Linked DNA regions of Homo sapiens: all the other regions are linked to region 3. Evidence: fine-mapped expression QTL. A gene starts in region 3. Each other region holds a variant in brackets. All regions are shown on one strand. Distances are between the middles of the regions. Region 1 overlaps LOC124901774 (a long non-coding RNA gene). Region 2 overlaps GIMAP2 (GTPase, IMAP family member 2). Region 3 holds the start of GIMAP1 (GTPase, IMAP family member 1).

Region 1 (10,881 bases), 63 kb before region 3:
GTGGAGTCCTGAGAACGTGGGTCAGCAAAGGGTAAAACAACCAAATAATTATATGAACTGCTCTTAATTAGCAAGGAGTTGGCTCACTTATAAATATTTATTAACATGGTACATAAATATCAGCAAACAGTTCTTTCAAAGAACAACCTTGCATTAGCAAGTAGGAATGCAAAGATAGGTTAATATTAGGATATTCATAAATAATTTCACGTGGTAATATATTCAAAAAGAAAACTAATTTGATCTTCTACTTATATTCTGAGAAGGCAGTTGATAAAGTTCAACCAGTATTTGATTTTTAAAGATAATTCCTTATAATACAAAATAGATAGCTGTGTCTACCTCAACATCAAATCCAGCATCATGCTTAGTCGGGAATTTGACAACCCTTCAACCTAACGTCAGGTAAAAGGAAAACATGTCATTGTTCCTTATTACCCCTACAGTTTTCTAGAGCAAGTGAATGCTACAACGATAAAACAGAAAGTAATTGCATGCATAAAAATTGTAAAGCTAGATATAAAATTATTTGCAGAAAATATGATTTCATATCTGTGAAAATCAAGAGAATAAACTGATGAACTACTTAAAAATAGGAGAATTTGGTAAGTTGGTAGGTGCAAACTAAATACAAACTATAGTAATTTACTAAGTTACAAATAAAAACTGATTAGGTATAACACATGTGATATGGTTTGGCTCTGTGTCTCCACTGAAATCTCATGTTGAATTGTAATCCCCAGTGTTGGAGGAGGGGTCTGGTGGGAGGTGACTGAATCATGGGGGAAGACTTCCACCTTGCTGTTCTCGTGATAGAGTTCTCATGAGATCTGGTTGTTTGAAAGTGTGTAGCACCTCTCCTTTCACTCTCTCTCTCTTCTGCTGGCCATGTGAATATGTGCCTGCTTCCCCTTCACTTTCCACCATGATTGTAAGTTTCCTGAGGCCCCCCCTCAGAAGCAGAAGCCAGTATAGCCCACAGAACCATGAGCCAATTAAACCTCTTTTCTTTATAAATTATCCAGTTTCAGATATTTCTTTATAGCAGTGCAAGAATGGACTAATACATCACATTTTTAAAAATAACAAAAAGATAAAATACCTAGGACAAACTTCTAAAATGTGTAACCTCTGTGTAAAGAAAACTTTAAGAAACATCTGAGGGGCTGGGCATAGTGGCTCATGCCTGTAATCCCAACACTTTGGGAGGCAGAGGTGGGTGAATCACCTGAGGTCAGGAGTTTGAGGCCGGCCTGCCCAACATGATAAAACCTTGTCTCTAATAAAAACACAAAAAACAAGCCGGGCATGGGGGTGGGCACCTGTAATTCCAGCTATTTGGGAGGCTGAGACAGGAGAATCACTGGAACGTGAGCCGAGATTGTGCCACTGCACTCAAGCCTGAGCAACAAGAGTGAAACCTCATCTCAAAAAAGAAAAAAAAAAATAGGAAACTTCTGAGGATATGCAGCAAAAAGAACTCTCATAGAAGGCTTGATGAAAATGTGCATTGGTAAAACCACTTTGGAAAATTATCTGGGCTGGGCATGGTGGCTTACACCTATAATCCCAGCACTTTGGGAGGCCAAGGTGGGTGGATCATTTGAGGTCAGGAGTTCAAGACCAGCCTGGCCAACATGGTGAAATCCCCCTTCTACTAAAAATACAAAAATTAGCCAGGCGTGGTGGCACACATCTGTAATCCCAGCTACTCGGGAAGCTGAGGCAGGAGAATTACTTGAACCTAGGAGGCAGAGGTTGTAGTGAGCCAAGATCGCACCCCTGCACTCCAGCCTGGGCAACAGAATGAGACTGTCTCAAAAAAAAATTATCTGGTAGTATCTATGAAAGCTGAAGGTTACACATAGCCAATATTCAGCCATTCTACTCTTGGGTGCATACCCAAGAGAAATAGGTGTTCAACAAAAGATAATGCCTATAATATTTATAGCAGTGTACTCATAAAAAAACTGAAAGCAATGCAAATGTCCATCTACAATAGACACCAAATGAATTGGGCTATATTCACCCAATAAAATCAAATACAGTTATGAGAAGGCATAATCTATACCTACATATTATAATATGGATACATATAAAAGCTTACAGCAAACAAATATGACAATTCCCTAAGCTATAAACTTATATGAGCCTTTTGTTCCACATGTGTTATCATAAAAAAGTCAGTAAATTATTTCTACATTACCTGTAAATTTAATTCAATGTCAGTTTTTTACAAGCCTCTGAAAATGTTCTCTTCTAAACTGGAGCGAAAACTTGGTTCTGAGGCACAGGTGGAAATTACCTGTAAGTGTGCCAGGACTCCAAAAACAAAAATAACCTCATAGGCCACAGTCACAAGAGCAAGCACCCATGCTCTGCAATCCATTACCACAGCCCAGGAAGTGATAAACTACTCTAACAATAAGAGAATTTAGTAAGTTGATGGGTGCAACTAAATACAAACTATAATAATTTACTAATATACAAATAATAACTGATTAGGTATAACTCATGTGATATAGTTTGGCTCTGTGTACCCACCCAAATCTCTCGCACACTCACCCTTCAACTTCCCCTCATTCAGTGAGGATTAGACTGTGCTTTCTGGATGTTGCTGTCACAGTTCAGCAGATGCTGAGATAAAGTTGTGCAGGCATGAAATTCATTTAGGAGTATTTTTGGGAAGAGCCTGTGGGCGAGTGAAGGAAGCAGAGGAAGTCAGGCTGTGATGACAACAAAGGCCTAGTGAGTCAACCCCTCCAGGAGCCCAGAGACTAAGATGGCCCTGCACAGCTACCCAAAATTGGGGCCAGAGGCCAGGCCTCTATACCTCTACACTGACAAGTCATCAGGTGTGAGTGGCCCTGGGAATGGGAGATGACCTTGGAGGAAGTGACTTTTTAGCTGAGACCAATCATGAGGTGGTGTCTTAGGGGTGGGGGCAGGGCTCAGCCAGCAGCTGTCAGCTCTCAACACTCCCGTCAAGTCAGCAGGGAGACTCGGGACTTCAGTCCTGAAATGGAGGGGAAGGAAGTGGATCTCAGTGGCTGACCATAGAGAATACAACATTGAGCAAAATTTGGGCTATTTCACTAGGTCTTCAGAGTCACACTACCATCCAAAGCAATGGCTGTGACTGGGTTTCTCGGGAGTCCAGCAGGTGCATGGAGAAAAACACTTCCCTCAGGCAAAACTGAAGCACCTACCAAATTGTGAAATACTACATTCTTTTTCTGTTTAAATGTGAAATATTTCTTCATTGGCTCCACTCCTTTGGAGCTTCCATGGTCAGAAGTTGAGCGGGGTCAGAGGTTTCGCTGGAAGTAAAAATGGTAGTTCACACTTCCCTGGAGAGACTTGTGAGCTCATCCATTCTGCAAAAGCAGGTGAGGCTGGCTGGGAAGGAGAGCAGGGAGCTGTGTGTGAGTGGGGGTCATGGGGGGCAGCCTGCATGTGAGTGTAGAGGCTGTGGGAGGGGAAGCTGAGAGTTCAAGCAGAATGTCACTCCAGCTCATATTGCACAGGACAGGCCTTTGCTTAACAGGCACTTTCTATCTGGTGTCTGTTGTGATGCTGTTGTCTGAAAACTGTCATTTACCTTTAACAGGATATTAGTGTCCCCAGGACAGGTCTTCAGAACTTGCAGGCAATTTAGAGACACCAAATCTAAACCTACTCTAATTGCTTTAATTACTGAAAAAGAATCAAAGCCCAGTGAATTGGGGACATCCCAAGTGTCCTCTAGGTTGACAAGAAAAGACTAGAACTTGGTCTACTAACTCCATGTCTAGATATATTCCAACACCTCCCAAGAAGGAGGCTGTGCTCCTAATAGTATAAGAGATGGGGTGGAGGATAGGGAGCTTAGGGAGAAGATTAGCTGCTCTAAAAAACGACTATAATTTGTAATTCCAGCTGAACCCCTAAGTTGCAGTGTGGTTCTAGGTAAGACACAGAACGATTTTTTAGTCCGTGCTTCTCTTATATATCCCGTGGCATCTTGAGTGGCTGCTGTGCTCTAGGCAATGTGTAAGACTTTTAGAAATTATTCCATGAAAACCACATGACAACCCTGCACAACTGGTTTTATTGACCCTTTTCATAGCAGAGGGAACTAAGTCTCAAGAAGCTTATGGAATCTTCCAGAAATGGTGGGTCTGGCTACAGTTAGGTCAGCTCATGTCTGAAGCACACGCTTGTTTCACTTCTCAGCCCTCCTCTTAGCTGGAGGTCATCTGGGTCTTCCAAGAACCACTTAGGGAAGTTTTTTTTTTTTTTAATGTGACCTTTTTCCATAAGTTATTGGGGTGCAGGTGGTATTTGGTTACATGAGTAAGTTCTTTTGTGGTGATTTGTGAGATTTTGGTATACCCATCACCTGAGTAGTATATACTGCACCATATTTGTAGTGTTTTATCCCTCGCCCCCTCCCACATTTCCCCCCAAGTCCCCAAAGTCTATTGTATCATTCTTATGCCTTTGTGTCCTCATAGCTTAGCTCCCACATATCAGGGAGAACATATGATATTTGGTTTTCCATTCCTGAATTACTTGGCTTAGAATAATAGTCTCGAATCTCATCCAGGTTACTGAAAATGGTGTTAATTCATTCTTTTTATGGCTGCATAGTATTCCATCATACACACACACGCGC[G/GCACA]CGCACACACACACACACACACACTACAGTTTATCCACTCTTTGATTAATGGGCATTTGGATTGGTTCCATGATTTTGCTACTGTGAATTGGGCTATTATAAACATGCATGTGCAAGTATCTTTTTTGAATAATGACTTCTTTTCCTCTGGGTAGATATCCAGTAGTGAGATTCCTGGATCAAATGGTAGTTCTACTTTTATTTCTTTAAGGAATCTCAACACTGTTTTCCATGGTGGCTGTATTAGTTTACATTCCCACCAGCAGTGTAGAAGTGTTCCCTGTTCACTGCGTCCACGCCAACATCTACTGTTTTTTGATTGTTGGATTATGGCCATTCTTGCAGGAGTAAGGTGGTATTGCATAGTGGTTTTGATTTGCATTTCCCTGATCATTAGTGATGTTGAGCATTTTTTCATATGTTTGTTGGCCATTTGTATATCTTCTTTTGAGAATTGTCTGTTCATGTCCTTAGCGCACTTTTAGATGGGATTTTTTTTCTTACCGATTTGTTTGAGTTTGTTGTAGATTCTTAATATTAGTCCTTTGACAGTTGTGTAGATTTTCTCCCACTCTGTGGGTTGTCTATTTACTCTGCTTACTGTTCCTTTTGCCATGCAAAAGCTCTTTAGTTTAATTAGCTCCCAGTTATTTATCTTTGTTTTTATTGCATTTGCTTTTGGTCATGAAATCCTTGCCTAAACCAATGTCTAAAAGGGCTTTTCCAATGTTATCTTCTAGAATTTTTGTAGTTTCAGGTCTTAGGCTTAAGTTCTTACTCCATCTTGAGTTGATTTTTCTATAAGGTGAGAGATGAGGATCCAGTTTCATTCTCCTACACGTGGCTGCCAATTACCCCAGCAACATTTGTTGAAAAAGGTGTCCTTTCCCCCACTTTATGTTTTTGTTTGCTTTGTCAAAGATCAGTTGGCTATAAGTATTTGGGTTTATTTCTGGATTCTCTATTCTGTTCCATTGGTCTATGTGCCTATAAAACAGTATCACACTGTTTTATGGTTCGAAATTAGGTAGCGTGATGCATTCAGATTTGTTCTTTTTGCTTAGTCATGCTTTGGCTATGTGGGCTCCTTTTTGGTTCCTTATGAAGTTTAGAATTGTTTTTTCTAATCTTGTGAAGAATGATGGTGGTATTTTGATGGGGATTGCACTGACTTTGTAGATGGCTTTTGGCAGTATGGTCATTTTCACAATATTGATTCTACCCATCCATGAGCATGGGATGTGTTTCCATTAGTGTCACCTATGATTTCTTTAAGACGTGTTTTGTAGTTTTCCTTGTAGAGGTGTTTCAGCTCCTTGGTTAGGTATATTCCTAAGTATTTTATTTTATTTTATTTTATTTTATTTTATTTATTTTTTGCAGCTATTGTAAAAAATATTGAGTTCTTGATTTGATTCTCTGCTTGGTTGCTGTTGGTGTATAGAAGAGCTACTGATTTATGTACATTAATTTTATATCCAGAACTTTGCTGAATTCTTTTATCAGTTCTAGGAGATTTCTGGAGGAGTCCTTAGGGTATTCAAGGTAAACAATCATATCATCAGCAAATAGTGACAATTTTACTTTCTCTTTACTGATTGGATGCCCTTTATTTCTTTCTCTTGTCTGATTGCTCTGGCTAGGACTTCTAGTACTATGTTGAAGAGGAGCAGTGAGAGTGGGCATCCTTGTCTGGTTCTAGTTCTCAGGGAGAATGCTTTCAGCTTTTCCCTATTCAGTATTATGTTGGCTATGGGTTTGTCATAGATGGCTTTTATTACATTAAGGTATGGTCCTTTTATGCTGATTTTGATGAGAGTTTTAATCATAAAAGGATGCTGGATTTTGTCAAATGCTTTCTCCACATCTATTGAGATGATCATGTGATTTTTGTTTTTAATTCTGTTTATGTGGTATAACACATTTATTGACTTGCATATGTTAAACCATCCCTGTACCCCTGGTATGAAACCTACTCGATCATATTTTTTGATATGTTGGATTCAGTTAGCTAGTATTTTGTTAAGGATTTTAGCATCAATGTTCATCAAGGATATCAGTCTGTAGTTTTCTTTTTTGATTATGTCCTTTCCTGGTTTTGGTATTACTGTGATGCTGGCTTCATAAAATGAATTAGGGAGGGTTCCTTCTTCCTCTATCTTGTAGAACAGCATCAAAAGGATTGGTACCAATTCTTCTTTGAATGTGTGGTAGAATTCTACTGTGAATCTATCTGGTCCTGGACTTTTTTTTTTGTTGTGTGTTTGGGAGAGGAGGGTCTCCCTTTCCCACTTCTGCAGTTGGGGCACTCACAGTATTTGGGGTATCTCCCAGGTCCTGCAGGAGCAGACTGCTTCCTTTGGAGGGTCCTCTCAGGGTTGCTGGTTTGTTCTTGCAGTTGATCTGCCGCTAAAATTCACAATGTGAGCTTCCACAAGCTGCTCTGTCCAGAACTGCAATCTGGTCCTGCCTGCCATCTGCTATGATGATCTAATTGTCTCCCATTTAGGAAAGTTTTAAAATGATTTTTCTAGGCCAGGCGCGGTGGCTCATGCCTGTAATCCCAGCACTTTGGGAGGCTGAGGCGAGTGGATCACAAGGTCAGGAGTTTGAGACCAGCCTGACCAACGTAATGAAACCCCGTCTCTACTAAAAATACAAAAAAATTAGCTGGACGCCATGGCGGGTGCCTGTAATCCCAGCTACTTGGGAGGCTGAAGCAGGAGAATCGCTTGAACCTGGGAGGGGGAGGTTGCAGTGAGCCGAGATCATGCTACTGCACTCCAGCCCGGATGCCAGTGTGAGACTCCATCTCAAAAAAAAAAAATGATTTTTTCTGTCTCTCTCTCATCTTTGGCTTTTCAGTATGGGATAGAGGGAAAAGTCCACAGAGAAGTGCGGAGCCCTCCCCATGGACTCTCCAATCCAAGGCTTGCTCCCAGCTCACCTTCTGAGCAAAGTGTGGATCATTTCCTTTGCCCTCCCCTGACCTATTTATCACATGATGTCAATGAAAATGTACAATCATGGTTTGAGAGTAACCAAGGACAGGCTGTAGAGTGCATGGTTAAGAGTGAGTGTGGTAGAGTCACACTTCAACTCAAATATTTTTATCATTCTAAAATCAAATCTTCATAACAGTCAATTCAAAGAAGTCCAGCTTCTGCTCTCATTTCTATTCCCTCCCTCTGTACACAGGTAACTTTTTCCTTCCTTGTTACTCTTTCTTGCTTTCTTCTTTTATTTCTTCCTTTCTTCTACCTCTCTTTTTCTCTTTTTCTTCTTTCCCTTCCTTCTTTCTTTCCTTGCTTGTTTTCAAAGTATATCTTTCTATTGTCATCCTTATATTTATGTATCTATATGAAAATATATAACATATAAATATAATAAATATATATGCAAAAGTGTATCTTGTGCCCCTTACTAAACAAATGATAGTATCCCTTACATTATTTTATTCAACTCATAATTGAATAAAATACTTAGCAATATATCCTGGAGATGATTTTACAACTCTCTATAGAGATAGTCTTCACTACTTTTTACAATGAAGAAGTACTTCATTGCATAGATGTATCTAAGTTCATCCCGCCAGTCTCTTATTCATGGTAATTTGGATCAGTTTTTGTCTTTGCTTTTTTAAATAGTACTCTTCCAAGGAGATTTTTGCATAGTTCTTTCTATACTTTTGCCAGTGTATTTTTGGGCACATTCTTAAATTTGATAATGTGTGTCAAAGGGTAAATCCTTCTTTATTTACCCCCATAGGGCTGAACTCTTTTGCTTTCCCTTCAGCAGTGTCTGAGAGTTTCTGTCTTCCCTATACTTTTGTCAAGAAAGTAGGCTGTCAAACTTTAGGAGTTTTGCCAAATCTATACATGAGAAACATTCTCTGGAATCTACCCCTTTTCCAAGGACTTTTGGTTCTGGTTATTGGGTAATAAACAAAGATTTGGACACTTGATGTGCTCATTGCTAGAAGGTGTCACTTTTTCTAAGCTCGCCTTAGCAGACAGAGCTGGGAAAGCCATGCGTGCAAATTTACATATGCAAATCCACATACTTATGTTGATTTCTGCATCTCTCTATCTACATGCTTTTAAAAAGCAGTAAGTTCTATTCTTATTTGTAACTTGTTTGTGCAACATTATTTGCAATATACATACTACTTTGTTCAATCCTATTGTTACTGATAGAGTTGTCCAGGTTCTTGAAGTGTTGAACAAAGAATTGAACAAAATGCACAAAGTAACAAAAGAATGAAGCAATGAAAGACAAAGCAAGGAAGTAATGAAAGCACAGATTTGTTGAAGACAGTTTACAGGGTGGGAGTGAGCTCCAGCAACCAGCACAAGAATCTCCTTGTTACAATGCTCCCCAATGTTTTTATATAGCCAAAATAACTTGGCAACACCTCTAGGTGCCATTTATTTATTTATGACTGAGTCTTGTCTATTGCCAAGGCTGGAGTGCAGTGGTGCAATCTCGGCTCACTGCAACTTCTGCCTCCCAAGTTCAAGTGATGCTCCTGCCTCAGCCTCCTGAGTAGCTGGGATTACAGGCCGCATACCACCACACCCACCTGGGTGCCCTTTAGAGGTCTCCAATTGGTTACACCTTATGAAGGATTGGCCTGTGACCAATCAGAGAATAAAGTGGAAACTTATGTCTTGTTATCACAGGAGCAAGGATGTGGCCTTTATGCTGCCTAATCTTGCCTAGAACTGTCGGCACCTGCTGTTTTTTTGCTTATGCCTTAACCCTTGGTTACCTTAATTCCCTATTCTCCTGTCTCATTTCCTGCTGAGAGACATGATCCCCTTGAATCTTTATGGGAGGCAGAGGCACTGAAGATCAGCTTTCTGTAGCTGCTTCCTGCTGGTCACGGGCATTGTCCCTGCCTATTGAGAATCCTGGCTCTTTGTCCCTAGGTAGTTAGGTCAGTGTCCGTGGGCTGCAATGAAACTTGTACTTGGTCATAAAAGGTGCAGCTAGCTTGATCCAGTTGTGACAGTTGAGTATCTTTGGCTCGATTTTGGATTTTGTTCCAAAACTGACTGAAACCCTTGCACAAGCATCTGTAAGTGAGGGAGCAAAAATCAATTAACATTTTACACCAGGGAAAATTGGTAGGTATTTACTTATCTTTTGGCTTTCTTTTAAACAGGTACTTCAGGTCTTCCACAGGTTCACAGGTATAGTGGCTGGAGGGAGCCTCCAGTTCCAGGTCCAGGGCTTCAGATATTGCAGACTTAACCCTGGAAAGATGTATCCAACAATCTGATCCTAGTGCTTTGACTGTGGAAGGCGTGGCCAACACAACGGAAAACAGTCCTTTCCATTTGGGTTGTAATTGTTGAGCAGGTGACCCTTCGTTCCATGTTTTAACAAGTACCTTATCTCCTGGCCTGACCTTGGTGCGCTGGTTAGTTCCTGGTACAGGGAACCTTTGAGTTCCAAACTTTTTGTAAAGCCTGCTGAAATTGTCCCAGGTTAACTAAGTATTTTACTAAACCGGCTGCTTCTGGATCAATCATTAGATCATTAGTTTAAAATGGCCTCCCATATAATATTTCATATGGGCTCATATTAATTTTTGCTCTTGGGGAATTACAAATTCTTAAGAGGGATATGGGCAGTAAGCTGATCCAAGTTTCTGTTGTTTCCTGATGTAGCTTAGCTAATGCCCGTTTTAGAGTTTGATTAGCCTTTTCTACTTTCTTGGAGGATTAAGGCCTCCATGCTGAATGTAAATAGTATTTGATTCCAAGAGCCTTAGTTATGTGAGAGTTATTTGGGAGTTATAAATAACCCTTGAGTTATTTGGGAGACAAAAGAAGGCTGTGATCACTTTGGAGGCTTTGGGGTAACCCAAACTGGGGGAATATTTCCTTCAAGAGAAACTTTATAACCTCATTAGCCTTCTCTATTCTGGTAGGGTAAGCTTCAACACAGCTAGTAAAAGTGTCTATTCGTACTAACAAAAACTTGTATCCTTTACAACCTGGCATGTGGGTAAAGTCCAGTTGCCAGTCTTCCCCTGGGTAAGTTCTCCTTCTCTGGACTGGTCCTATTAGAGGAGGCATTTTGTTTCCTGGGTTGTTGAATGCACACAGTGAGCAGGTTTGTCAGATCTGCTTAACCACTGAAGCTAAGTTAGGCCCAATGAAGAATCTGTTTACCAGACCAGAGTGGCATCTCTTCCCATATGGAAAAAGTCATGA
Region 2 (10,572 bases), 17 kb before region 3:
CTTATAAAGTACATGGAAACTCAAAGAAGTTACACAGCCTTGGCTGAAGCAAACTGCCTAAAAGGAGCCTTAATCAAAACACAACTGTGTGTTTTATTTTGTATTCAGTTGTTTCTCAGATTGATAATTCTGTGGCTTTGCATACTGCACAGCATGTGCAATTTGTTTTGTTGCTTACTCTTTAGTATGTGCAATTTATTCTGCAGTTTGCTGTTTATTATACCCAAAAAGTTAATGATATTTTTGAGAACAGTTATTAGACTAGAACGCAAGACTCCTAGGTTATAGTTACAGATCCCAGTTATTATTTACTCACTATCATTTAGTGGGTGAATCACAGTAATTTCCCTGTAAAATGTGGTACCTGAAGTCATATTTGAGATTCTATGAAATGTTTAAATCTGAACATCACTCCAATTATTAATGAACCAAATCATACGATAAGTTACTGTTTGCATTGAAATATAATATCAAAGCCTTTTGAAATCTGTAAACATAAAATTCCTCTCATTTTCAAATATCTAAAGCCAGTTTTATGTTCCTAAAATCTCATTTTCTTCTTTCTAGTACTACTATTTCTACTGAATATAATGAAAATGGCAATAAAATAATATTACATAAACTGTAAAGTTCCTTTGATCATATGTTGTTAATTCTCTTCTATAGTTTTCTCCTTAGAAAATGGTAAGTGGACATGACTCATGTTAGCCAGATTTTAGCCCTGACGTCCTACAGATTTATCACTGAAACATAAGTAAAGACAAATGTCAGAAAAGATAGCAAATTGGACTGGATATTCTGAAGCATCATCTTGCTAGATGCAAATAGAGGCTACATTTATTAAAAGAAACAGAATTTTTATAATTGATGAGTTCACCAGAAAAATAAAGAAAATTCCAAAGGTAGAGCAAACAATATTTTTTTTTAAATGAGGAGCACAAACTGGAGTTGAGGCCCATGAGGAATACATGAACAAGGAAGGCAGAGGTGACCGATAGACAAATGCCGGTACCAATCCTAAGATGAAGAAATCAATCTTGGGCTGTCAGTAAAATTGGAGAGCTGATTTGGAGTGTTCTGTATTAATTTAGGACCTTCCAGGAGACTAAAGTTATCCAAAATTAGTTGAATTATTGACAGCCAGTAGAAGCAAACACAAATCTTCTCTAGAGGAAAACATCTCCAATTTACTTGAGTATTCAGATGGAATTAATTCAGTAAAGTGAACCCAAATCATGTCCCTATGAACAAGATCAAAAAGATTAAAAAACCCAACAGAAGTAGACTCAGAAACTTTAATATCACAGTACTAGTTACAGTGTACTAAGTAGCTATAAAATATTTCTTAGAATATCACACACATACAGCCCAAATTAAAAAGGAACAAAAAACTACCAAAGATGATGAGCTGTATTTGAAAAAACTCATGAAATTTTAATAAATCAAATTATAATTGATTTTTTTAAAGTTAATGATGAATACTCCTATTAGTGTTGGAGAAGTGTATTCATTACATAAACTCCTCCATGGGTAGCAGTTATAAAAACTTTTAAAAATTTTAAATCTATGTAAAGATACTGGAAAACATCTAAAAGTGGACAGATGAAAAAAGAGAGTTTCTCTCAAACATTGCAGGGATTTGTATTAAAATTTGGAGCAACAAAAGATGCAGACTATCACTGCTTCTATTTAGCATTTTACCACAGGTCTTATCTATCTAATAACTTCAAAAAAAGAAATAAAAATAAAAGGTATGAGTACTGATGAGAAAGAAAAATAATAATTTTAGATAGATAATTAAAGGTAATAAAAGTAGAGCAATGAATCTCAATATAATATCAACTTTTTAAAAGCTACAACACTTCCATATCCTGACAACAGACAGAAAAACTGAATTTAAAAAACAGAGTTCAGACTTCCTTGTCAGATCAAAATAGCATAACAAGGACCAGATATCCCCTTCCTGCCCCATGTGAAACAATCAAAAAATGGACAAATGATATAAAATGACAGTGCTGAAGACACTGAAAATCAGGTAACAAAAGAGAGTAATCACTGAGAATTGGAAAACAAGACAAGAGTTTCAATTTTCCCAGCCTCCTGTCTTGAGAGAGTTTTCAGGTCACAACACAGAGAGGGTATAACAGACAGACCCTATGTTGACTTCAAATGATTCCTGGCCCCTGGTGTTCACACCTTTGTAGAACTCCTCCCCTTGATTGTAGGTGGGATCTGAGACCTATTTCTAACCAATAGAACATGGCATAGGTGACAGAATGTCACTCCAGTGATTTATATAGCTGCACAAAGACTTGCTTTTCCTTTCCTCCTGGCCTTCAAGGAGCAAATTTCCATTTTGTGAATTGCCTATGAACAGGGCTAACATGGCAGAGAACTGCAGGTGGCCTCTAGCCAACATACAGGAAAAAGTCAAAATCCTTGGTCACAGCCACAAAGAAACAAATTGTGTCAACATCCTGAGGGTTCAGATCTTTCCCATCAAGCCTCTGATTAGACTTAAGCTAGCATTACAGGCTGGTGAAACCCTAAAGCAGAGAACATACAGTTAAGCTATGTCTACACTCCCTGCCCACACTAATCTTGAGATAATAAATCTATGCTGTTTTAAGTTGCTAAGTTCG[C/T]GGTAATTTGTTATGCAGCATTAAAAAACTAACATTTATGGAAACCAGGTGGAGCCTGGCAGACTCCCTGATTTGAGAAGATAGAGTTGGGATTCTGGAGATACAAAGGTGGCTAAGAGTTCACATAACAGAGTCTGAGAGAGGAGAGAGCTATATGGAGAGAAAACTAGACACCTGCAGAGAGTCCCCCTTGAGTCTTCAATTGAATACTGATCACCACATGCATGTGGTGAAACCCCCTGAGGTGACAAAAAGAACCAGTCAACAAGATTAGAGGAAACAGTGTCCTGCACTCACCACGGACCATAAAAACTAAAAAAGCCTGTGATTTGTGGGGCATTGGGTAGATTTCCCAGAAGAGCCTTGCCTCACTAGTGGGAAATAATTGGTTCTAGACTGACAACTTATCAAGTATGCCTACCAAATATTAAAAGCAAGACCTGAAGGATCAAACTGTTTCCAAGTAACTTAAATGCATCCCAGAAGAAAGCTCAAGAATATTTACAGAAGTAAGAAAATATTCAGCACATAAGAAGGTCAAAACCAGATGTCTGGCATCCAGTAAAAAATTACCAAACATGAAAATTAGCAAGAAAATATGAAGAGATAAATCAATGAATAAATACCAGCCCAGACTGACAAAAGTGTTAGAATTATCAGCCAAAAACATTAACACAGTTATTACAACTGTGTGCTATATGTTAAAACAGTTTAAGTAGTAAGGTGGAAGACATTAAAAAGATCCAAATTTAACCTCTAGAGATAAAAACTACCATAAAAGATATAAGAAGTACATTGAATAGGGTTAGCAAAATATTAGGCTGAAAAAGAAAAGATTAGTGAACTTATGATCATCTAAATAGATGCAGAAAAGGCTTTCAATCAAATTCAAAAATCCCTTCATGTTAAAAACTCTCAATAAACCAGGTATTGAAGAAACATACCTTCAAAATAATAAGAGCTATCTATGACAAACCCACAGCCAACATTATACTGAATGGACAAAACCTGAAAGTATTCCCCTTGAAAACTGACACAAGACAAGGATGTCCTCTTTCACCACTTCCATTCAACATAGTATTGAAAGTCCTGGCCAGAGCAATCAGATAAGAGAGAGAAATAAAAGAGAGTAACAAAAGAGAGTTTGTTTCTCTCTTCCAAATGGGAAGAGAGAAATTTACACTATCCTTGTTTGCAGACAACATGAGCCTATATCTAAAAAATCCCATAGTCTCAGCCCAAAAGCTCCTTCGGCTGATAAAGAACTTCAGCAAAGCCTCAGGATACAAAATCAATGTACAAAAGTCACTAGCATTCCTATATAACAACAACAGTCAAGCCGAAAGCTAAATCAGGAATGCAATCTCATTCACAACTGCCTCAAAAAGAATAAATATTTAGGAACACAGCTAACTAGGGAGGCGAAAGATCTCTATAATGAGAACTACAAAACACTGCTTAAAGAAGTCAGAGATGACACAAACAAATGAAATAACATTCTATGCTCATGAATAAGAAGAATCAATATTGTTAAAATGACCATACTGCCCAATGTAATTTATAAATTCAATCTTATTCGTATCAAACTACCAATGACATTCTTCACAGAACTAGAAAGAAAACTATTTTAAAATTCATATGGAATCAAAACAGCCTTAATAGCCAAGGTGATCCTAAGCAAAAAGAACAAAGCTGGAGGCATCATGCTACGTAACTTCAAACTATACTACAGAGCTACAGTAAGCAAAATAGCATGGTACTGGTACAAAAACAGACATATAACCAATGGAACAGAATAGAGAGGCCAAAAATAAGGCCACACCAACTACAACCATCTGCCAAAAATAAACAATGGGGAAAGGACTCCCTATTCAATAAATGGTGCTGGGATAACTGGCTAACCAGGCTAGCCATATGCAGAAGATTGAAGCTGAACCCCTTCCTTATACCATATACAAAAATCAACTCAAGATGAATTAAAGACTTAAATGTAAAACCCAAAAACTATATAAACCCTGGAAAACAACCTAGACAATATTATTCTGGGCATACGAACTGGCAAAAATTTCATGATGAAGATGCCAAAGGCAATTGCAGCAAAAGCAAAAACTGACAAATAGAATCCAATTAAAGAGCTTCTGCACAGCAAAAGAAACTATCAACAGAGTAAACAGACAACCTACAGAATGGGAGAAAATTTTTACAAATTATGCACCTGACAAAGGTTTAATATCCAGCATCTGTAAGAAACTCAAGCAAATTTATAAGAAAAAAAAGCAACCCCATTAAAAAGTGGGCAAAGGACATGAATAGCCACTTTTCAAAACAAGACATACATGTGGCCAGCAAGCATATTTTAAAAAAGCTCAATATCACTGATAATTAGAGAAATACAAAATAAACTACAATGAGATACTATCGCACATCAGTCCAAATGGCTATTACTAAAAAGTCAAAAAATAACAAATGCTGGCAAGGTTGCTGAGAAAAGGGAACACTGATACACTGTTGGTGAGAGTGTAAATTAGTTCAACCATTGTGGAAAGCAGTGTGGCAATTCCTCAAAGATCTAAAACCAGAACTACCATTCAACCCAGCAATCCCATTACTGGGTATATCCTCAAAGGAATATAAATTATTCTATCATAAAGACACACATGCATATGTATGTTCATTGCAGCACTATTCACAATAGCAAAAACATGGAATCAACCTAAATGCCCATCAATGCTAGACTGGATAAAGAAAATGTACATATACACTATGGAATACTACACAGCCATAAAAAAGAATGAGATCATGTCCTTTGCAGGAACATTAATGGAACCGGAGGCCATTATCCTTAACAAACTAATGCAGGAACAGAAAACCAAATAGTACATGTTCTCATGTGGGAGCTAAATGATAAGAACATATGGACACAAAGAGGAGAACAACAGACACTGGGGCCTATTTGAGGGTGCAGGATGGAAGGAGGAAAAGGAACAGAAAAAACAACTATTGGGTACTAGGCTTAGTATCTGAGTGACAAAACAATCTGTACAACAAACCCTTGTGACACAAGTTTACCTATATAACAAACCTGCATATTTACCCCTGAACCTAAAAATTTAGAAAAGAGAGAAGATTAATGAACTTGAAGACACAGCAATAGAAATGTCCCAACATAGAAAACACAAAAGAAAAAAAGAATAGTCACTTTCAAAGAACAGAGCTTCAGTGAGCTCTGGGACAACCTCAAGTGGAATGTATATGTAACTGGATTCACTAAAAATAAAAGGGGGTCAGGACAGAAAAAATATTGGAATCAATAATGGCCAAAAATTTTCCAAATTTTATGAAAACTGTAAGCACAAGAACCCAAGAAGTTCAGTGAACCCCAAGCAAATAAGACATCCACAAGAAGAAACATGATAATCAGGTTGATCAAAATGAATGATAAAAGGACAATTCTTAAAGCAGCCAGAGGAAAAAAAACATATGTTATGTCCAGAGAAACAAAGGTAAGGATGACAACAGATTTTTCTGAAGAATTAATGTGACAGAGAAGACAGTGAAACAACATTTACAAAGTACAATCATGTGTCACTTAACAATGGGGATATATTCTGAGAAGTGCACCATTAAGCTACTTCATCATTCTGTGAACATTGTAGAGTGTACTTACACAAACCTAAATGGTACAGCCTACTACACACCTAGGCTGTATGATATGGCCTATTGCTCCTAGACTACAAACCTGTAGAGCATGCTACTGTAGTGAATACTGTAGGCAACTGTAACACACTGGTAAGTATTTGTGTATCTAAACATACTAAACACAGAAAAAAAATACAGTAAAAATAGGGTGCTATACTCTTATGGGACCAACATCGCATATGTGGTCTGTTGTTGACCAAAACATCATTATGTGACACATGACTGTATTAGAAGAAAAACTGTCAAATTAAAATTATTTTTCAAAATTACCTTTCAAAAATGAAGGCAAAATAAAAGCTTTTCCAGACATTCAGTAGCTCAGTTTGTTGCCAGCAGACCTGAACTACAAAAAAAAAAAAAAAAGTTAAAAAAGGAGAATGATATCAGAGAAAAATACTGATCTTTTCAAAGGAATTAAGATCATCAAAAATGGTAACCACATGAGTAAATATATAGGGTATTTTTCTTATTAATTAAATACCTTTAAAATATAATTGACTGCTTAAACAAAAATAATAACAATATAGATTGAGTTTTGCAATATATGCAAAAGTAAAACCTGTGAGAACAATAGGACAAAAAATCAGGAGAGGAAAAATGGAAAGATACTATTATAAAATGTTTATGCTCTATGTAAAGTGATATGATATCACTTCAAGGTGAACTGAGGCAAGCAAAAGCTCTATACTATAAACTCTAAGTCAACCAATAAAATAACAAAGAGTTATAGATAATAAGCCAACAGAGAGAGGAAAAATGGAATTTTTTAAAAGTTCAATTAATATAAATGAAGGCAGTAAAAAGGGAAACAAAGAACAAATGCGACAAATTTGAAAAATAGTAAGATGATAGATTTAAATCTAAAGAAGTCAATAATCTAAATATTAGAGTACATGGTCTGAATATCCTCAGTTAAAAGGCAGTGATTGTCAGAGTGGATTTAAAAAGCAAAGCTTATCTATATTTTGCCTACATGAATCTTGCACTAAATATAAAGACAGCTGGCTTAAGCAGAAAAGGATGAAAAAAGATATTCTATAATGACACTAATCAAAAGATACTTGGAATGACAATATTAATATCAGACAAAGTAGACTTCAAAGGAAAAAATATTATCAGGAATGAAGAAGGACATTCTACAATGATAAAGCCATCAATTCATCAAGAGGACATAACAATCTAAAACTTTTATGTGTGTAATAACAGAATTCCAAAACACATGAAGCAAAAATTGACAGAATTGCAATAATAAAAAGAAAAACTCACAAATATGGCCAGAGATTTTAATGCCCCTCTCAATAATTAATAGTATAGAAGATAGGTATGGAAAAATAATAATAATAGTACAAGTAGACAAAAAAATCAGTAAAGATAGAGAAGATTTGAACACCATTGTATTAGTTTCCTATGGCTGCTGCAAGAAATTCCTACAAGCTTCGTGTCTTAATACAAGCCATTTATTCTCTCACAGTTCTGGAAATCAACAGTCCAAAATCAGTTTCATGGGGCTGAAATCAAGGTGATGGTAGTGCCCTACTTCTCCAAAATCTCTAAGGGAAATATTTTTTTGCCTTTTGCAGCTTTTAGAGCTGCTCATGGCCCCTTCCTTCATCTTCAAAGCCAGCAGCACAGCATCTTGCTTCAGTCCTCACATTGCCCTCTTTTTCTGTGCCTTCCCTCTGCTTCTCTTAAAATTTATATTTAGAGTCCATCTGGACAATCAAAAATAATCTCTTTATCTCAAGATCCTTAACTCAATTACATCTGCAATGTCCCTTTTTGACATATAAAGTAACATCCACAGGTATGTCCTGGGCAATAAGACATGGATATCTTTGGGGGCATTATTCAGTGTGCCAACATTGTCAACCAATTTGACCTAATTGACATTTATAGAACATTCCACTTAATAACAGCAGAATACACATTTTCAAGTCCAATATGCTTAGTTTCCTGTTGCTGCTGTTACCATAAATTTAGTAGCTTAAAACAACAAAAATTTATTATCTTACAGTTTTGGAACTTAGAGGTTCAACATGAGTCTCAAGTTGTTGGTGAGGATGAGTTCTTTTCTGGAGGCTGTACTGGAGAATCAATTTCCTTGCCTTTTGCAGCTTCTAGAGATCACCTGCATTCCTTGGCTTATGGCCCAGTTCCACCTTCAAAGCCAATGACAATGGATTGAGTCCTTCTCACATCAAATCACTATGAACTTCTTTTCCGCATCTCTCTCCACTTTTAAGGGCCATTGTGATTACACTGGGGGTACCCAGACAATCCAAAATAATCTATTTTAAATGCAGCTAATTAGCAATCTTCCCCCCCCCCCCCACCATATTACTCCAGCAGTAAAACCAAGCCTCCAGCTTCTGCCTGGAAGGGGCTTGTCTACACATTGAGCACCCCAACTTGTACAGCTCCCACTTGAGAGACTAGCTCCTAAATCACTTATCTCTGGGAACTGACATGACTTAGCATTTACAAGTCCCCCCAGACCACAGAGAACAAAGAATTGATTTGATTTTAAATGGGAATAGGAGCACCTGTAGTGGCTACTTCCCCTGGCTCGGCACAGAACAAGAAGGCAAAACACCCAGTTTCCAGTTTCTCCCTGGAAGGGGTTCAACTGCAAACCTAACATCTTAACTTTCACTGCTGCTTCCCAGGATCAAGCCTTTAATTAGCCTGCATCTGGGAGCTGATGGGGCAGGCAATAAGTACTTCTCTGGGAGCCTGAAGGGAACTATAGGCACTTCCCACAAATCCTCTTCTCAGCTTGCTCTAGAGATAGTACCAAGCCTCCATCTGACTCACCTGTCTCTGACAGCCAATGGGAATCAATATTCATTAGGCCCCTGAGGGAAACAAAGAGCAGACCAAAGGGTTGAAAGAGTGTACAGTCTGAACGAGAGTGCAGGAATCTGACACAGATAGTCTCCATGCCTTATTCCAGAACAAGGGCAAATACACTTCAGTTCCAAGCTTCTCCCTGAAGAGAGAAAAAAAAAACTGGACCACACATCTAGCACCATAAATTTTCCAGCTTCTTCTCAAAGTATTCACTTCTTTTTGAATTGTCTCAGGGCACTAATGGGATATGGAACACATTAATCTTCTGGGGCCCATGAAGAACATAGGCAATGGTTTGGACAAGCACAAAGATTTGGGAGGCACCCAGAATCACTGGCCATACTGATTTGTGTGGTTTATTCCTACACAAGACTGGAGAGGTAGCTGTTTTATCTAATGCACAGAAACCAACACAGAATCAAGGAAAATGAAGAAACAGGAAAATACGTTTCAAACAACAACAACAACAACAAAACAAAAAACAAAACAAAACAAAAAAAGATAAAACTCCAGAAGTCAACTTAATAAAATAGTGACAAGTCATTTACCCAGCAGGGAATTCAAAATAATGGTCTTAAAAATATTCACTGAGGTCAGGAGAGAAAGGCATGAACAAAGTGAGACTTTCAACACACAGATAGAAAATGTTTAAACATACCAAACAGAAGTGATACAGCCGAAGAATACAATGCCTGAACTGAAAAATTCAACAGAGAAGTTCAGCAGCAGACTAAACCAAGCAGAAGAAAGCATCAGTGAACTTGAAGACAGGCCATTGGAAATCATCCAATCAGAGGAGCAAAAAGAAATAAGAATGAAAGAGTGAAGATACCTTAAGGGACTTATGGGACACATAAAGCCGACCAATGTATACATTATTAGAGACCCAAAAGAAGAGAAAAAAGAAAGTGAAAGAAAGTATTAAGTTGGTAAAAGAGTAATTGCAGTTTTTGCAATACATCTGCAAAAAAACGCAATTACTCTTGCACCAACCTAATATATTCCAAGAGATAATAGCTAAAAACATCCCAAGCCTGGGGGAGTAAATAGAAATCCAGATCCAGGAAGCCCAAAGGATACTAAATAAAGTGAATCCAAAAAGACCCATTATAATTAAATTGTCAGAAGTTAAAGACAGAGAATTTTGAAATCAGAAAGAGAAAAGCAACCTACTACATACAAGGGAATCTTCATAAGACTATTAGTAGATTTTTCAGCAGTAACCTTGCAGGTAAGAAGTGCATGGAATGATATACTCAGAGTGCTGGGAGTGGGGAACTGCCAATCAAGAATACTGTGTCAAGCAAATCTAACCTTAAAAAAATGAAAAAGAGATTAAGACTTTCTCAGAAAAACAAAAGCTCGGGGAGTTTATTACTGC
Region 3 (10,881 bases):
AAACACAAACTACCATCAGAGAATACTACAAACACCTCTACGCAAATAAACTAGAAAATCTAGAAGAAATGGATAAATTCCTCAACACATACACTCTCCCAAGACTAAACCAGGAAGAAGTTGAATCTCTGAATAGACCAATAGCAGGCTCTGAAATTGTGGCAATAATCAATAGCTTACCAACCAAAAAGAGTCCAGGACCAGATGGATTCACAGCTGAATTCTACCAGAGGTACAAGGAGGAACTGGTACCATTCCTTCTGAAACTATTCCAATCAACAGAAAAAGAGGGAATCCTCCCTAACTCATTTTATGAGGCCAGCATCATCCTGATACCAAAGCCGGGCAGAGACACAACCAAAAAAGAGAATTTTAGACCAATATCCTCGATGAACTTTGATGCAAAAATCCTCAATAAAATACTGGCAAACCGAATCCAGCAGCACATCAAAAACCTTCTCCACCATGATCAAGTGGGCTTCATCCCTGGGATGCAAGGCTGGTTCAATATATGCAAATCAATAAATGTAATCCAGCATATAAACAGAACCAAAGACAAAAACCACATGGTTATCTCAATAGATGCAGAAAAGGCCTTTGACAAAATTCAACAACCTTCATGCTAAAAACTCTCAATAAATTACGTATTGATGGGACGTATTTCAAAATAATAAGAGCTATCTATGACAAACCCACAGCCAATATCATACTGAATGGACAAAAACTGGAAGCATTCCCTTTGAAAACTGGCACAAGACAGGGATGCCCTCTCTCACCACTCCTATTCAACATAGTGTTGGAAGTTCTGGCCAGGGCAATTAGGCAGGAGAAGGAAATAAAGGGTACTCAATTAGGAAAAGAGGAAGTCAAATTGTCCCTGTTTGCAGACGACATGATTGTATATCTAGAAAACCCCATTGTCTCAGCCCAAAATCTCCTTAAGCTGATAAGCAACTTCAGCAAAGTCTCAGGATACAAAATCAATGTACAAAAATCACAAGCATTCTTATACACCAACAACAGACAAACAGAGAGCCAAATCATGAGTGAACTCCCATTCACAATTGCTTCCAAGAGAATAAAATACCTAGGAATCCGACTTACAAGGGATGTGAAGGACCTCTTCAAGGAGAACTACAAACCACTGCTCAATGAAATAAAAGAGGACACAAACAAATGGAAGAACATTCCATGCTCATGGGTAGGAAGAATCAATATCGTGAAAATGGCCATACTGCCCAAGGTAATTTACAGATTCAATGCCATCCCCATCAAGCTACCAATGACTTTCTTCACAGAATTGGAAAAAACTACTTCAAAGGTCATATGGAACCAAAAAAGAGCCCGCATTGCCAAGTCAATCCTAAGCCAAAAGAACTAAGCTGGAGGCATCACACTACCTGACTTCAAACTATACTACAAGGCTACAGTAACCAAAACAGCATGGTACCGGTACCAAAACAGAGATATAGATCAATGGAACAGAACAGAGCCCTCAGAAATAACGCCGCTTATCTACAACCATCTGATCTTTGACAAACCTGAGAAAAACAAGCAATGGGGAAAGGATTCCCTATTTAATAAATGGTGCTGGGAAAACTGGCAAGACATATGTAGAAAGCTGAAACTGGATCCCTTCCTTACACCTTATACAAAAATCAATTCAAGATGGATTAAAGACTTAAACATTAGACCTAAAACCATAAAAACCCTAGAAGAAAACCTAGGCTTTACCATTCAGGACATAGGCATGGGCAAGGACTTCATGTCTAAAACACCAAAAGCAATGGCAACAAAAGCCAAAATTGACAAATGGGATCTAATTAAACTAAAGAGCTTCTGCACAGCAAAAGAAACTACCATCAGAGTGAACAGGCAACCTACAGAATGGGAGAAAATTTTTGCAACCTACTCATCTGACAAAGGGCTAATATCCAGAATCCACAATGAACTCAAACAAATTTACAAGAAAAAAACAAACAACCCCGTCAAAAAGTGGGCGAAGGATATGAACAGACACTTCTCAAAAGAAGGCATTTATGCAGCCAAAAAACACATGAAAAAATGCTCATCATCACTGGCCATCAGAGAAATGCAAATCAAAACCACAATGAGATACCATCTCACACCAGTTACAATGGCGATCATTAAAAAGTCAGGAAACAACAGGTGCTGGAGAGGATGTGGAGAAATAGGAACACTTTTACACTGTTGGTGGGACTGTAAACTAGTTCAACCATTGTGGAAGTCAGTGTGGTGATTCCTCAGGGATCTAGAACTAGAAATACCATTTGACCCAGCCATCCCATTACTGGGTATATACCCAAAGGACTATAAATCATGCTGCTATAAAGACACATGTACACGTATGTTTATTGCGGCATTATTCACAATAGCAAAGACTTGGAACCAACCCAAATGTCCAACAACAATAGACTGGATTAAGAAAATGTGGCACATATACACCATGGAATACTATGCAGCCATAAAAAATGATGAGTTCATGTCCTTTGTAGGGACATGGATGAAATTGGAAATCATCATTCTCAGTAAACTATCGCAAGAACAAAAAACCAAACACCGCATATTCTCACTCATAGGTGGGAATTGAACAATGAGAACACATGGACACAGTAAGGGGAACATCACACTCTGGGGACTGTTGTGGGGTGGGGGGAGTGGGGAGAGATAGCGTTGGGAGATATACCTAATGCTAGATGACGAGTTAGTGGGTGCAGCGCACCAGCATGGCACATGTATACATATGTAACTAACCTGCACATTGTGCACATGTACCCTAAAACTTAAAGTATAATAACAATAAACAAAATAATAATAATAATGAGCTATTTATGACAAACCTATAGCCAATATCATACTGACTGTGCAAAAGCTGGAAGCACTCCCTTTGAAAACTGGCACAAGACAAAGATGCCCTCTCTCACCACTCCTATTCAACATAGTATTGGAAGTTCTGGCCAAGGCAATCAGGCAAGAGAAAGAAACAAAGGATATACAAATAGGAAGTGAGGAAGTCAAATTGTCTCTGTTTGCAGGTGACATGATTGTATATTTAGAAAACCCCATTGTCTCAGCCCTAAAACTCCTTAAGCTCATGAGTAACTTCAGCAAAGTCTCAGGATACAAAATCAATGTGCAAAAATCACAAGCATTCCTATACACCAATAACAGACAAACAGAGAGCCAAATCATGAGTGAATTCCCATTCACAATTGCTACAAAGTATATTAAATACCTAGGAATACAGCTTACAAGGGATGTGAACAACCTCTTCAAGGAGAACTATAAACCACTGCTCAAGGAAATAAGAGAGGACATAAACAAATGGAAAAACATTCCATGCTCATGGATAGGAAGAATCAACATTGTGAAAATGGCCATACTGCCCAAAGTAATTCATAGATTCAATGCTATTCCCATCAAGCTACCATTGACTTTCTTCACAGAACAAGAAAAAACTACTTTAAATTTCATATAGAACCAAAGAAGAGACTGTATAGCCAAGACAATCCTAAGCAAAAAGATCAAGATCAAAGCTGGTGGCATCACACTACCTGACTTCAAACTATACTACAAGGCTACAGTAACCAAAACAGCATGGTACTGGTACCAAAACAGATATATAGACCAATGGAACAAAACAGAGGCCTCAGAAATAACACTACACATATACAACCATCTGATCTCCAACAAATCTGACCAAAACAAGCAATGGGGAAAGGATTCCCTATTTAACAAGTGGCGCTGGGAAAACTGGCTAGCCATATGCAGAAAACTGAAACTGGACCCCTTCCTCACACCTTACGCCTTATACAAAAAATAACTCAAGATGTATTAAAGACTTAAATGTCAAACCTAAAGCCATAAAAACCGTAGAAGAAAACCTAGGCAATACCCTTCAAGACATAGGCATGGTAAAGACTTCATGACTAAAACACCAAAAGCAATTGCAAGAAAAGCCAAAACTGACAAATGGGATCTAATTAAACTAAAGAGCTTCTGCACAGCAAAAGAAACTATTATCAGAGTGAACAGACAACCTACAGAATGGGAGAAAATTTTTGCAATCTATCCATGTGACAAAGTCTAATATCCAGAATCTACAAAGAACTTAAACAAATTTACAAGAAAAAAAACAAACAACCCTATCAAAAATTGGGTGAAGGATATGAACAGACACTTCTCAAAAGAAGACATTTATGTGACAAACATATAAAAAAAACCTCATCATCACTGGTCATTAGAGAAATGCAAATCAAAACCACAATGAGATACCGTCTCACACCAGTTAGAGTGGCGATCATTAAAAAGTCAGGAAACAGATGCTGGAGAGGATGTGGAGAAATAGGAATGCTTTTACACTGTTGGTGGGAGTGTAAAGTAGTTCAACCATTGTGGAAAACAGTGTGGCAATTCCTCAAGGATCTAAAACCAGAAATACCATTTGACCCAGCAATCCCATTACTGGGTATATACCCAAAGGATTATAAATTATTCTGCTATAAAGACACATGCATATATATGTTTATTACAGCACTGTTCACAATAGCAAAGACTTGGAACCAACCCAAATGCCCATCAGTGATAGACTGGATAAAGAAAGTGTGGCCCATATATACCATGGAATACTATGCAGCCATAAAAAGTATGAGTTCATGTCCTTTGTAGGGACATGGATGAAGCTGGAAACCATCATTCTCAGGAAACTAACACAGGAACAGAAAACCGAACACTGCATGTTCTCACTCATAAGTGGGAGTTGAACAATGAGAACACATGGACACAGGGAGGGGAACATCACACATGGGGGCCTGTCGGGGGTTGGGGAGGCAAGTGGAGGGAGAGCATTGGGACAAATACCTTAAAACCTAGATGACAGGTTGATGGGTGCAGCAGACCACCATGGCAAATGTATACCTATGTAACAAACCTGCATGTTCTGCACATGTATCCCAGAATGTAAAGTACATTAAATAAAAATTTTTAAGTATGCAGCTCCTTCCCATTCTCTCTTGCTCCTACTCCAGCCATGAGATGTGTGTGCTTCCCCTCTGGCTTCTGCCATGATTGTAAGTTTCCTGAGGCCTCCCCAGAAGCCAAGGAGATGCCAGCATCATGCTCCCTGTACAGGCTGTGGAACCGTGAGCCAATTAAATCTCTTTTCTTTATAAATTACCCAATCTCGGGTATTTCTTTAAAGCAGCGTGAGGACGGACTAATACATTTTCTTCACTGCATTTATAAGGATACGGAAGAAAACAATGAACATGCAAAGACTGGAAAGAGAGGAAGGAAGCATTAATACAGGGTACAAAAGGAAGCCGGAGTTCTAGATATAATTCTGAGACTCAAGTGTAGTCAGGGTCTGAGCTTCACCTGGGTTTCCACAACTGATAGTAAGTATCAATGAATAATAATAGGCAACAAAGCCCAGAGACAGTGAGACATAATCAAGAGCTAATAGAAATGTAGAGGAAAATAAAGACAGAAACGGTTACTTTTCAATAGGAAGAAGATCCCAGAAAGCACCAGTAGGAAAGTGGAAATGTGGGACGGGAAGGGATAGTAGCCAATGCAAGTTGCATTAATGAGCACATTACCACTGTATACGGTGATGAGGATGTTCCCACTGCAGACAACTGGGTCTCAGTCCTGCTGGGGACTCAGCAATTTGTATGCAGTACATCACAGAGTTGTCTCACGTGGTGGACAACTTGATAAGTTGTGGTGTTTATCCATAAGTCCTAACTGACATTGATTGAAATCTGCTCCTAGGATATCAGCTCTGACAACTTCAGGCTGCTGCATGCATTACCTACATATACTTTTGTAGTCAGATAAACCCTCTGACAGAGAGTTATGAGTGGCTGAAGTAAGACATCATACACATGCATGGAAACAATAAATGGCCCGGAGCTGTTGAAGAGGCTCTGAAAGCGTCTTTATGAAAGGTACACGTCAAGTATCAAAGACTTATTCAAAGCTGATCTATGTGGCTTGGGCTAGGATGAGGCTAGTGAGAAGCCCTAGGCACCTCACTCTTAAGAAAACACTCACTCCCAGGGTCACCCACCTACAAGATCTGCACTTGGGTGACCTGAGAGTGAGTGCCTCCTTAAGCTGTGTGCTCTAGATGCCCCACCTGCCTCACAATAGCCCCAGCCCTGCCGGTCTACTGGGAGAATGACAGGCTCCCTGTTTCAGCAATGATGAATGGAAACAGTGGACATGTCAGATATCCAGGAGACTCTGTGCCCCCAAAAAGATGGGAAACAGTAAAAGCTGGGTCTCTTCCCTACCAGAAAAAAAGTGGTCTGGCATGAAAGAGGTTAAAAAGCAGATCCTATCCAGTAGGGTAAGACTCGGGTTATTGTCTTCCCCATATACTCCAGAAAGCCAACTCCAGAAAGTTTAAATGAGTTAGGTGAGGTCCTATAGCTGGTTAATGACCTAACCAGATATGCAGCCTGCTCCTCTGTAGCCTTCTTACCACCCAGTGATTCGCTTTTTTGCTGACCTCATGATGCTCTTGAGAGAAGATAGAATAACTAGAACTGGTGATACCAACATAGACGACTAGACTAAAGCCTCCTAATAAGGCTAAATTGAAGATAGTGCGAAGGTGTTCATCCTCAACATACCAGTTCACCCTCAAGTCCTTCAATAGCTGGGAAAGCCCTCCTCTCTCAGAGAATGATAAGACTTTGCCTTCAGGTTTTTCTGGCAGACTGGATCTGGGGCTGGCACTGGCCACATGAATGTCTAATTAATGGACAGATGATGAGAACAGCTATTACGTTATTTGTTCCGGGGCAGGAGACTCTCTGGGCCTATTTTATATGGGGAAATGTCCCTATAGGGCAAAGGCAACTGAAGATTAGCTCAGTAATCAATTTTAGAAGTACAGTCAGGCCTCAGAGACTACAACATCCCTCCCTTCTTAGAGCATGGCAAGATATTTGACATCATGAGGCCCTGCTGGAGACACATAACCTCAGTCACAGCAGAAAGTAGAGTCGGTAGGAGAAGTATTGCCAACCCACAGCTCAATGGGAAATGTTTCTGTCTCTTTAAACCATAACCATGGGGCCCACCCTGAGCTTCCTGATTTCTGAAGTCTGAGTGATTTCCTCCGTGTGCCGAGAGGAAACAGCCTTCTGCACTCACAGCCGAAGGGAAAGCAGCAGGTTGGGGCTTCTTGTGGCCAACTTCAGAGCCTGTCACCAGGAAAGGTGAGCCTGAGCCTGGGAGTGGCGGGGGCTGGGGGTGCTCTGAGAACCAGAAAGAACATGATTCCTAGAGTGTTTACTGCCTGAACACTTGCATTCTACAAGGCATCATGCAGGCGAGCAAGATCTGGAACAATCAAGGACATACTTCCAGGTTTTTAAGTAGGCAAAGTTCAGAGGAAATTTTAGGATCATCTTCTCCAGCTCTGGAGCACACACGTTCTTGGTGGGGAGTGAAATCTGTCTCCTCCCACATTCCCTTAACAAAGTAAGAAAAGAGTGTGCTGGAACCACCTCCAGGAATAAAATACAGTTTGAAAGGCATTAAACATTCCTCAAGCTCCCTATTGAGCAAAGGCAAAAGATATTTCTATGGCCCCATAAGCCATCTAACCTCGGAGTGAGTTACGACGTGACAAGACTGGGTACATTTGAACTCTCCTCCTCACTGTCCACAGAAGGGGCCCCTGAGGAGACATCTGAGATTAATATCTTGGTCTTCAACCCCTTTCCCTGCATGGCCCCTTAAACATCTGCTCCCTTAATTCAAGCTTCTCCTGCTCCAGCCACGGGGACACCTCAAATTCCCATCTGTACAATAAAGGGGGTTGCAAAAATGACTGATGTCCAAGTTCTGAGCTGTGGACATCAGAAACATTTAATTCATGAATCAGAATCTCAGGATGGATCCAAGAGATGTACATTTTTAAAGAACATTCAAGTAATTCTGAGAAGCAGCACATTTGAGCGGTGAAGAACTCAATAAACTTTGCGGTCTCTTAAAGTGTTAGGAATACAGGATTCTATAAGTGTACATTCCTCAATGATTAAGGGCCATTTGTCACCTCAGAGTTCAGCTGGGTCTTACTTTCCTTTAAAAAAAAAAACTATTTAAAATCATTTCAACCCCTCTTCTAAACTATGGAAAATTCCAAAGGCCTATCCAGAATTCTGCAGCACTGGAAAAAGAAATTCTCATTTTCTTGGTTGACAAGGACATTTTGCTTCATCTAAATTCTTTTCTCTGAATCTTGCAACTGTTTCTTCATTTCTGCTTTGATGTCATTTATGATCATCTGTTCATTCCTACATGCAAAATAATTAATCACATAAGGCCCATGGAGTGAATTTTATTGAAGGCTTTGGGGAGGGCCAGTAGAGTTCCTGCAGAAACAGAAACAGCTCTAGATTTAATATGAGGCAAATCTGTTCTCCAAGTCCTTCAATCAAAGACAAGTTACTCAGCCAGCCTCTCTCTCTGCCCCTCCTTCATGTGTGGTGCCAATGGGAGAGAACACAGGTATCCAAGTGACCAGGGTGCAAGACACAACAAGTTTGACATGGATGGTGAGGCACAGACAGATGGTCGGGGAGGATCAATAGTCCTAGGAGGGGAAGCCGAGTGGGTTGGAAAGGCCCTGAAATCTGCTGATTGTGAAGTAGCTGACCGAGTGGGGTATTGTCTGGGAATGAGGCTGGAGACATAGATGCAGGGAGAAGTGAATTTGTGTTCAGGAGCTTGTGTGATTAGGCAAACTGGATCACAGAGGGTTTAGCTGTATTACACAATGTTAGATTTCAGCATAATCACATTTGGAGGGGAAGCAACTTCAGGAGTTGAAGGGAAGTGTTCAAGTCTCTCCAGCACAGATATCGTATTTAGACATCTCTAAACAAACCAAATTATTTGATTTTAAGAAAACAGAGTTAGGGGCCCTCCAGATCTACTTGGGAGATCTGTTCAATTTCCAAAAGAAAAATCCCAATTTTCTTCTTTCTTCCCAGGTCAGCCACTTGAAGGTGGGTGCCTAAGTCACTGGGCACATTTTCTGGTTCTGAGGGTTTACCTAATCTTCCCCCAGCTGCTGAATCCCCTGATATCTCTAGCTTATGTCAGTGATATAGAATCACCCAGGGAAAAGTAATACCTAAAGCCCATTGGCATTGAGTAAATGTTATAACCGACCCTCTGCTTTTTGCTTTTGGAGTTCCTGAAAAGACAAATCTAGCCTCACCCAATGTTCTCACAGCATCCTACCAACTCAAGGGCAGGGTGTTGGCCCTTCCAAGGCCATTCTCTCAAGTTCCGATATAATCCTTACTTAAAGAAGGATTAGCACAATGTATTATATTTGACGAAATTTACCTGTCTTCTCTCTAGCCACGTGCCCTTCTGCCAAGACATACACCTAGATTTTTAGATCCTTGCAAGCAAAAACCATGTCTTTTCACTGTGCTGTCACCAGCTCTTTGGACTTTGCCTGACACCCTGTAGGTGGTTATGCCTATTTGTGGTTATGCCTATTTGAGGAATAAATAAATGAATTAACAAATTGTGTTTGGGACTCTTCCAGGTAAGCATGGGAGGAAGGAAGATGGCGACAGATGAAGAAAATGTCTATGGTAAGACCATATCTCTACACCTCATACTTGCCCCCCTAGGCTTGAACTTAGGGTAATAAGGAGAATGGGGCTTCCTCAAGACTGAACAGAGATAAGTTCCAGAGGTGTCTCAACTCTGGGATGAAACAGCACCAGCCCTGAGATCTGCATTTTAGCTGGATCTCTGCTGTGAGAAGTTAAGTTCTGTGACTAGCCTGCTCCCTTGGTTCCACAGTATAAAATAAGGATAATAAACCTACTCCGATCACCGCAGAAGAAGTGCAGAGGGGATTAAATCATGCACTACAGTGAACATGATTTGTGAGGTAGAATGTTTAGAGAACAAGGATAGAGGGTTAAAACATATATTCTTTTTAGGCAGCCAGTTTAAGAGAGAGATAAGAGAGGAAGGAGAGAAAGAGGGAGAGAAAGAGAGAAGAAGGAAAGAGGGCTTATTTCACCCCCTCAACAGGCCTCTGAGAAACAGGCCCCTATTATCGCTCCCACTTTTGCCGAAGAGGCTTAATACTTAGATTATGCAGCTTCCCCAAGGTTACACAACCAGCACGTGGTGGGGCTGTGATTCAAACCAGGGTATCTGGGACTCCACACAGCTCTTCACTACCAGGCAGTATTGCCCCCACTGCCTGTCTCTGGGGATGGTCTCTGGGAGAATATTTCAGAGTCCATCGAAATTTTCAAATATGAAATAAATATGTCTGCATGTGTGTGGATGACCAGAAATGTCAGATGAACTATTGGGCTGGACTGATAAAGAAGCATTTCTATGATAATCAACTGTAGTTGGAGCATCTACTGGTGCAGGCAGACAACCCAAATACAAAAGGAAAAGGTGGAAATGAACGCCCAGGCGTTCAAATCTCTATTCTTAACCACTTATGCTAAAGGCAAGAAGATTCCAGTTCCCAAGGGGAAGTTGGTTAAACTTAAGTAAGATTATAACACTTGGTCTCACAGGTTTAGAAGAGAACGCTCAGTCCCGGCAGGAGTCCACGCGGAGGCTCATCCTTGTTGGGAGAACAGGGGCCGGGAAGAGCGCCACTGGGAACAGCATCCTGGGCCAGAGACGGTTCTTCTCCAGGCTGGGGGCCACGTCTGTGACCAGGGCCTGCACCACGGGCAGCCGCAGGTGGGACAAGTGCCACGTGGAAGTCGTGGACACTCCGGACATTTTCAGCTCCCAAGTGTCCAAGACAGATCCTGGCTGTGAGGAGAGAGGTCACTGCTA

What was found. PIP is the estimated chance that this variant, and not a neighbour inherited with it, causes the effect.
Region 1: its variant is fine-mapped to the expression of GIMAP1 in whole blood (INTERVAL, PIP above 0.99).
Region 2: its variant is fine-mapped to the expression of GIMAP1 in whole blood (TOPMed, PIP above 0.99).

Annotation. Positions count from the first base shown.
Region 1 is chr7:150,646,200-150,657,080 of GRCh38, forward strand. It overlaps LOC124901774 (a long non-coding RNA gene), which reads right to left. Exons shown (of 4, transcript XR_007060589.1): 4 at 2,105-2,692. Among named protein-coding and RNA genes, the nearest start is that of GIMAP6, 19 kb to the left of the region's middle. The variant G/GCACA (reference allele first, on the strand shown) is at 4,658.
Region 2 is chr7:150,693,013-150,703,584 of GRCh38, forward strand. It overlaps GIMAP2 (GTPase, IMAP family member 2), which reads left to right. Exons shown (of 3, transcript NM_015660.3): 3 at 1-629. The coding sequence ends at 288. Among named protein-coding and RNA genes, the nearest start is that of GIMAP2, 13 kb to the left of the region's middle. The variant C/T (reference allele first, on the strand shown) is at 2,643.
Region 3 is chr7:150,709,438-150,720,318 of GRCh38, forward strand. GIMAP1 (GTPase, IMAP family member 1) reads left to right here and starts at 7,176. Exons shown (of 3, transcript NM_130759.4): 1 at 7,176-7,253; 2 at 9,605-9,653; 3 at 10,611-10,881. The coding sequence starts at 9,611. It overlaps GIMAP1-GIMAP5 (GIMAP1-GIMAP5 readthrough), which reads left to right and starts at 7,176. Exons shown (of 5, transcript NM_001303630.2): 1 at 7,176-7,253; 2 at 9,605-9,653. The coding sequence starts at 9,636.